Linked DNA regions of Homo sapiens: region 2 is reported to be linked to region 1. The links are microRNA targets in miRTarBase. Many come from high-throughput screens and were not tested one by one. Region 1 holds a microRNA gene; the other region holds the end of a gene's coding sequence. Distances are between the middles of the regions.

What was found. The annotated mature microRNA hsa-miR-181c-5p reads AACAUUCAACCUGUCGGUGAGU and lies in region 1 at 2,575-2,596, opposite strand. An mRNA with a match to its seed (bases 2 to 7 or 8) in the 3' UTR can be bound and repressed. Matches are read on the target gene's strand: a 7mer-m8 pairs with bases 2 to 8, a 7mer-A1 pairs with bases 2 to 7 and ends in A, and an 8mer does both.
Region 2: miRTarBase lists ZNF439 as a target of hsa-miR-181c-5p. Seed matches in the 3' UTR shown: 8mer at 799-806, 7mer-A1 at 883-889, 8mer at 964-971, 8mer at 1,048-1,055, 8mer at 1,130-1,137, 8mer at 1,299-1,306 and 1 more.

Annotation. Positions count from the first base shown.
Region 1 is chr19:13,873,188-13,877,320 of GRCh38, reverse strand. MIR181C (microRNA 181c) reads right to left here and starts at 2,622; the gene lies at 2,513-2,622. NANOS3 (nanos C2HC-type zinc finger 3) reads right to left here and starts at 187. Exons shown (of 2, transcript NM_001098622.3): 1 at 1-187. The coding sequence starts at 72. MIR181D (microRNA 181d) reads right to left here and starts at 2,446; the gene lies at 2,310-2,446.
Region 2 is chr19:11,868,019-11,872,018 of GRCh38, forward strand. ZNF439 (zinc finger protein 439) reads left to right here. Exons shown (of 4, transcript NM_001348719.2): 4 at 1-1,468. The coding sequence ends at 551. It also overlaps the pseudogene VN2R14P. Among named protein-coding and RNA genes, the nearest start is that of ZNF69, 18 kb to the right of the region's middle.

The DNA of each region.
Region 1 (4,133 bases):
CTCTTTCCCACTCAGAGCCCTAACCAGGTGTGCCAAACCCAGGTAATCTGTCCACAGGTCAAAGGTCCCCATAGCTGGGCAGCATGTGCCAGGCGGAAGGAGTCACAGAGACAAGTAACCCTGCCTGGCTTAAGCTCCCTCCTTCTGACCCCTCTCTGCTGCCCCTTCCTTCCCCTCTCTGGAGCCTGGGAGTCTGTGCTGGCCGACCCTCCTTTTACCTCCAAGGGGGTGTGAAGAGGGAGGAGCAGGCTGTGGGAGGTTCCTTATTGTCACAGGGGGGCCTGGTGCCCCACTAATACTCCTCCTAAAGGGCTGTATGGCCTCTGGCTGTGCCGGGGGACTACAGGACACAGGGTGTGTGGGGGGGCATCCTGCGAGGTGCACCACAGCCCCCCGTACACACCTCCAGGGAATTGGGGGGCTACCCTGCCTCCCCTCCTTGTAGGAGTCCTTAGCCCTCCAGCCCCACTGGAGGATGGGGAGAATGGGTTGGAAACCCCACCCCCAAAGACTAGCAGTTACCAGTAACTTAAAGAAGTTAACTTAGTAACTTCTTTATAACTTTTTCTTCCTTCCCCTGGGCGGGGGAGTGGCCAGGTGCCCCTGGGTTCTTTGTGTGTGTGTGTGTCCAGGCGGGAGGTTGCTGATGCTCCAGCTGTCTCTGAAAGGAGTGTGGTAGTCCCAGGCTCATGGGCTGGTTGCGGGGGTAGGGGGGAAGGATCATGCCCCCCGGCCCCCAGCTCTGGTCTCCCTCCAAGAGTTTTCACATCGGTTGTCTTAGTGGAACCCCCATTGAATGGATGAGCAAACTGAGGTGTGAAGCCACCTGCCCATCCAGTTATTTATAAAGACATGCACCAGGCCAGGGAGTGGTGGCTCATGCCTGTCATCCCAACAGTTTGGGAGGCCAAGACAGGCGGATCACCTGAGGTCAAGAGTTCGAGACCAGCCTGGCTAACATGGTGAAACCCTGTCTCTACTAAAAATACACACACACACACACACACACACAAAATTAGCTGGGCATGGTGGCGGGTGCCTGTGATCCCAGCTACTCAGGAGGCTGAGGCAGAAGAATTGCTTGAACCCAGGAGGCAGAGGTTGCGGTGAGCCAAGATCAAGCCACTGCACTCCAGCCTGGGAAACAGAGTAAGACTCTGTCTCAAAACAACAACAACAAAAAGCACCACATCTGCCTCCTTCTTCTAGTTACTGGGGCCCCCTGAGGCTAGGTGCTGGGGAGGGAGCCCTTTCCTGGCGGGGGCTGCAGAGGGGTGAGAAAGAACCCTCTGGAGTTGGGAGGTGGGGGATAGCAAGTTGGGCTGTTAGGAGGGGACCCCTAGTACCTACAGGTCTTCAGTGTCCTCCCCGAGATGAGATCTCAGCTCAGTCCCAGGAGGGGAGGGTGTGCTCAGGACTTGGACACAGAGGAGAGACGCTGTGCCGCTTACACAGCTCATCCACCCATCCATTCATTTAAGAAACTTTTATTGGCCAGGCACTGTGGCTCATTTTGAGAGGCCGAGGAGGATTGCTTGAACCTAGGAGTTGGAGACCAGCCTGGGCAACGTTTTGAGACCCTGTTCCTACAAAAACACTTTTTCGAAATAAGCTAGGTGTGGTGGTGCGTGCCCGTGGTTCCGGCTACTGGGGAGGCTGAGGCGGGAGGATCAACGCTTGACTCCAGTTATTAGAGGCTGCAGTGAGCTAAGGTCACACCATTGCACTCCAGCCTGGGTGACAAGAGCGAGATCCTGTCTCTAATTTAAAAAACAAAACTATGGAGCACTCCACGGAGCAGAACTTACCACCCACATTTCAGAAAGGGGTTTTAGGCCAGGCAAAGTGGCTCATGCCTGTAATCCCAGCACTTTGGGAGGCCGAGGGGGGAGGATTACTTGAGGTCAGGAGTTTGAGACCAGCCTGGCCAACACAGTGAAATCTCGTCTCTACTAAAAATACAAAAATTAGCCCACTGTGGTGGCAGATGCCTGTAATCCCAGCTACTTGGGAGGCTGAGGCCAGAGAATCACTCAAACCCTGGAGGCAGAGGTTGCAGTGAGCTGAGATTGGGCCACTGCACTCCAGCCTAGGCAACAGAGTGAGACTCTGTCTTAAAAAAAAAAAAAAAAGGGGATTTTAGCTGCCCTGCCCCAGCCTGTTTACCCCCAACCCTCTAATATTTAGTCCCAAATCCAGCCAGAGCCCATCCAGATTCCAGACACCAGCTCTCCTCTCCAAAGAGGAGTGGTTGGGGTCAGGGCAAAAAACAGGCTGAGTGACTGTGGCGGTGGGGGGTCCTGTCCCCAGTCCCCATTCCCCTTAAGCCGTGTCTGGCCCAGCCACAGTGACATTCATCCCCCGGTGGGTCTGGCCTCAGTCCTCACAACCCACCGACAACAATGAATGTTGATTGTGACCTCGGCTGTGGCCTAGGGGAGGGGACGTGCCCAGGCTGGATTGGGGGCTCCCCAGGCCCCCCTAGATCTGGAAGGTCAGAGTCACCGGCAGGAGGATGGCAATTCCAGGCCTCAGGGTCCACTCAACGGTCGATGGTTTGCCTGAGCTGCCCAAACTCACCGACAGGTTGAATGTTCCCCCAAACCCTTGGCAAATTTTCCGGGACCTGGAGTCGGGGGTGGGGTAGGTGGCAGGGAACCAGAGAGCATGAAGAGGGAGAGGAGGAGAGAGTAAGGAACCCCTTTTCTCTCATGAAATAAACAAACGCTTTTCAGGTGCTGTTTGCACCTAGATCTGGGAAAAACACAAGGCAAATATAAATGCTAGTAAATAAAATGTAGCCTTTGCTATGGGGATGGAGATGTAGCAGTGCAGGGGAGTGCTGGCCTCAAGCCCGCTCCTTAAGTAATTCACAAAGTGATCCTGGAGGTGCAGATTACCCCCCTTTGTCAACTGGGGAGACTGAGGCCAAAGGCCACTGCTAGTCCGAGGTGGAGGAGGCATTCCAAGTGTTCCCGGGAAGTCTGGCAACGGAGGATCCTGGCCCCGAGGGCATTGATGCAACGTGGAGATAAACAAGCCATTTTAATACAATGTAATACGTTCTGGGAGCTTCACTGAGTTCCGGGCACGATGGTTTAGGAATCACAACAGCGTGAGTGGAGCGCTTGGGGGTGGGGGGTCGTCAGGTCTCTCCACTTTACAAGTGCACTGGGGCCCCACTAGACAGGGGAGAGGCAGGAGGTTCAGAGAGGGCGCCGCTCGCCCCGCGTGCGCGGTCACACAGCATCTGAACTCGGGCACTTCCGGAGGGAGTCCGCGCAGCCACGTGGGGGCTGCCCCTTGGGCCTCAAAACCGGCTGCGGCGCCCCCTCTCCATTTCCTCATCCCTCAAATGACCCCCAGTCCCTTCCTCCAGTGATCGCACAGAGTTCGGCGACCACCCCCCCGCCCCGGGTGCCCCCAGGCCTACAGGTACGCACCCCTATCTCCCACCCCCCGCAAGCCAAGCAGTGACGACCAGGGATGGGCGAGCGCGCCTTCGCCCCTGACCTGGGTCTGCGGACGGCCTAGGAAGGTGCACCCGGCATGGCCGGGTGCTGCGGCTCAGGCCTGTAATTCAGTATTTTGGGAGGCTGAGGCGGGAGGATCTTTTGAGCCCAGGAGATGGAGACCAACCTGAGCAACATAGCGAGATACCTGTCCCTACAAAAAAATTAGCTGGGTGTGGTGTAGTGAGCCTGTAGTCTTAGCTACTTAGGAGGCTGAGATGGGAGGATCGCTTGGACCCCAAGAGTTCGAGGCTCGAGGCTGCAGTGAGCCGTGATCGCGCCACTGTATTCCAGCCTGGGTCACAGGACGAGACCCCGTCGTCGCAAAAAAATAAGTAATTTCCTGGCCCCTGGCATTTCACCGAGGGGAATACTGAGGCCCAAAATAACCGCCTGGCATAACCCCAAGGTAGATGAGGGACCCCCAAGTGTGCCGAGCTGCGTGAACCACCCCCCCACCACACCCCTCACGGTGGTGGCAACGGAACCCGGCCGAGCCCCCGAGGACGCGCCCCCGAGAGCCCCGCCCCCGAGAGCCCCACCCACAGTCTGGAGCCACCAGCCAAGGCCCCAGCCCAGGCCCTGCCCCTTAGAGCCCCGTCGCTTTTGACCTGTTCCCCA
Region 2 (4,000 bases), 2.0 Mb from region 1:
AAAGGACCCACTCTAGGAAAAAACTTTATGAATGTAAGCAGTGTGGGAAAGCATTATCCTCTCTTACAAGTTTTCAAACACACATAAGAATGCACTCTGGAGAAAGACCTTATGAATGTAAGACATGTGGGAAAGGCTTTTATTCTGCCAAGTCATTTCAAAGACATGAAAAAACTCACAGTGGAGAGAAACCGTATAAATGCAAGCAATGTGGTAAAGCCTTCACTCGTTCCGGTTCCTTTCGATATCATGAAAGGACTCACACTGGAGAGAAACCCTATGAGTGTAAGCAATGTGGGAAAGCCTTCAGATCTGCCCCAAATCTTCAATTGCATGGTAGGACTCACACTGGAGAGAAACCGTATCAATGTAAGGAATGTGGGAAAGCTTTCAGATCTGCCTCACAACTTCGAATCCATCGTAGGATTCACACTGGAGAGAAACCCTATGAATGTAAGAAATGTGGGAAAGCCTTCAGATATGTCCAGAACTTTCGATTTCATGAAAGGACACAAACACATAAGAATGCACTCTGGAGAAAGACCTTATAAATATAAGATATATGGGAAACACTTTTATTCTGCCAAGTTATTTCAAACACATGAAAAAATTCACACTGGAGAGAAACCCTATAAATGCAAGCAATGTGGTAAAGCCTTAATTGTTCCAGTTCCTTTCGATATCTAAAAGGACTCACAGTGGAGAAAAACTCTATGAGTGTAAGCAATGTGGGAAAGTCTTCAGATCTGTCAAGAACCTTTCAATTTATGAAAGGACACACACTGGAGAGAAACCCTATGAATGTAAGAAATGTGGAAAAGCGTTCCATAATTTCTCTTCTTTTCAAATACATGAAAGTTGCACAGAGGAGAGGCGCCCTAAGAATGTAAGCATTGTGGGAAAGCATTCATATCTGCCAAGATCGTTTGAATACATGCAAAACACACACTGGAGAGAAACCTATGAATGTAAGGAATGCAAACAAGCATTCAATTATTTTTCTTCCTTGCATATACATGAAAGGACTCATACGAGAGAGAATCCGTATGAATGTAAGGATTGTGGGAAAGCATTCAGCTTGCTTAATTGCTTTCATAGACATGTAAAGACACACCAGAAGGAAACCCTATGAATGTAAGCAATGTGGCAAAAGCTTTCACTTCTTCCAGTTCTTTTCAATATCATGAAAGGACTCACACTGGGGAGAAACCGTATCAATGTAAGCAATGTGGGAAAGCCGTCAGATCAGCCTCAAGACTTCAAATGCATGGAAGCACTCACACTTGGCAGAAACTCTATGAATGTAAGCAGTATGGGAAAGCCTTCAGATCGGCTAGGATTCTTTGAATACAAATAATGAATGTAAACAATTAACTGTTTATAATAACTGTATACTAACAAATGTTATTCTTTTTAAATAATTAAGAAGCTATAATAAAATATCCATTGGTGTCATGTATTAGATCAAGCTTATAATGTTACATTGTTATTATTTGGATATTGTGAATCAGCATTACCTGGATTAAATGCCAGGCATATTTTTCCTCATGTAAACTTTACTTTTCATGCTTATGTACTTTAATTTTTATTTCAACTGTAATTTTTCTTTTTTTTTCCTTTTGCTTTTTCTTTTTCTTTTTTTTTTTTTTTTTTTTTTAGAAAGAGCCTCACTCTGTTGCCCAGGCTGGAGTGCAGTGGTGTGATCTTGGCTCACTGCAATCTCTGCTTCCCAGGTTTGAACAATTCTCCTTCTTCAGCCTTTTGAGTAGCTGGGACTACAGGCATGCACCACTTCACCCAGCTAATTATGTGTATTATTTAGTAGAGACGGGGTTTCACCATATTGGCCAGGCTGGTCTCGAACTCTGGACCTTGTGATCCTCCTGCCTCGGCCTCTCAAAGTGCTGGATTTACAGACATGAGCCACTGCGCCCAGCCTCAACCCTAATTTTTCTTTCACTCATAATACCAAAAGTTATCTCATGTATCTCTGAGTACCTTCTTGCCCAAAACCAGCAGCGCCATACCTGCTGTCAGCAAGGGTGTAATATACCATAGTGATAAATATGACCAGAAGACATAAATGACTGTGGGATGTATGAGAATTACAAGTCACATTGGTAAGAAGATAAAAATTTTCGTCATGTTTATGATTTGAAATATGTTTACTTCTATCAGTTTTAGAAATACAGTTACAAAATGCCCTTGTTTTTGTCCTGGTCCATCATGATCACTGAGGAGCATCATCTCATATGCCTGATATGTAACATGTGTCTCTCCAACAGTAAAAGACTTGGCCTTGGCTGGGTGTGGTGGCTCACACCTGAAAACCCAGCACATTGGGAGGCTGAGGCAGGCAGATCACCTGAGGTCAGGAGTTCGAGAACACCCTGACCAATATGATGAAACCCTGTCTCATCTAAAAATACAAAACTTAGTCAGCCATGGTGGCATGCTTCTGTAATCCTAGCTAGTCAGGAGGCTGAGAAAGGAGAATCACTTGAATCTGGCAGGCAGAGGTTGCAGTGAGCCGAGATCCCATCATTGCACTCCAGCCTAGTCAACAAGAGCGAAACTCTTTCTGAAAAAACAAAAACAAAAACAAAAACAACTTGGCCTTGTGGTGAGGGGAGGTCAGCTATAGACTTCTGGACCTGTTTTTGCCTTACTTATTCTGTAAAGACTAAAACATTTTCTAAAATGTATGGGCACTGTTAACTAGAAGGTACCTTAGTTAAAATATATAAATTCATTTACGCTTTATAAAGCTATATTTTTTTCAAATTGCTTTACTGAGTCATAGGAGGCTAATAAATTTGTGTAAATTGTCTAAATAAAAGCCTTTCTTCCTCTGATAATGTGCTGTTGATGCTAACTTGTCAACAGCCTGCTTATCTCAGCAGTGTAAAGTTAACGGTAACATGGAAAAGTCACTTTTATATATAATGCAATGGCTAGAACAATTCTGTCACTTCCTGTAAGGTCCAGTGAAGCTGCTCTTCAGAAACAGTTATTTAAAATCCTTATAGTCTAAATCTAGGCACCACAGGATGCAGAATCAATCACTGACCAAGCCCTGTCTGTGTGTGGAGGTGACACACCCAGTCCCAGATAATGTATCCACATCAGTGAAGGGAGGAGTCATTGATTGTCGGATCACACAAAGTAACTCAGAACAGGGAAGACAGGGCAGTGAAACCTGGCCAGGCATGGTGGCTCACACCTGTAATCCCAGCACTTTGGGAGGCCGAGGCAGGTGGATCACTTGAGGTCAGCAGTTCAAGACCAGCCTGGCCAACATGGTGAAACCCTGTCTCGTCTAAAAATACAAAAAAATAGCTGGGCATCATGGTGTGTGCCTGTAATCCCAGCTACTCAGGAGGCTGAGGCAGGAGAATCGCTTGAGCTTGGGAGGTGGAGGTTACAGTAAACTGAGATCACACCATTGCTCTCTCCAGGCTAGTCGACAGAGCGAGACTCCATCACACACACACAAAAAAAGTTGGGTGCACCTGAATCCAACCCCTGCCTCATCCTTCTGAATTGAAGGCCAAATGCACCCTGATACTTTTCACCAAAGAGTAGAAACAACACCATTCACTTGACCCCAAATGTGACTTTCCACAGGATGCAAGCACAGTGTTGGAATAGCCAATGACAGTGACAATAGAAGTGCAGGGTGAGGGTGATGAACAGGACACACTGGAGAGCCTGACATTAGGCTAGATATTGGGGTGTCTTGATGCTTCACAAAGAGCCCAAGGAGCACCCCAAAGAGGACACTGGAGCACAGGCCCAAAGGATCTTCGTATGCCAGGAAGGCCACTAATTTTGGAAGTCAGTGATGTTGGTGGGTTTAGCTTTGGGAAAAGAAATAGGGAAAATCTTTTCTTACAGCTTGAGAAAAATGAATAAACTTCCACAACAAAGTATAGTAGATAAATTGGTGAATTACAAAGATTTAGCAAAATATCAGTCCTCCTTTGCAAGTTGGAGAACT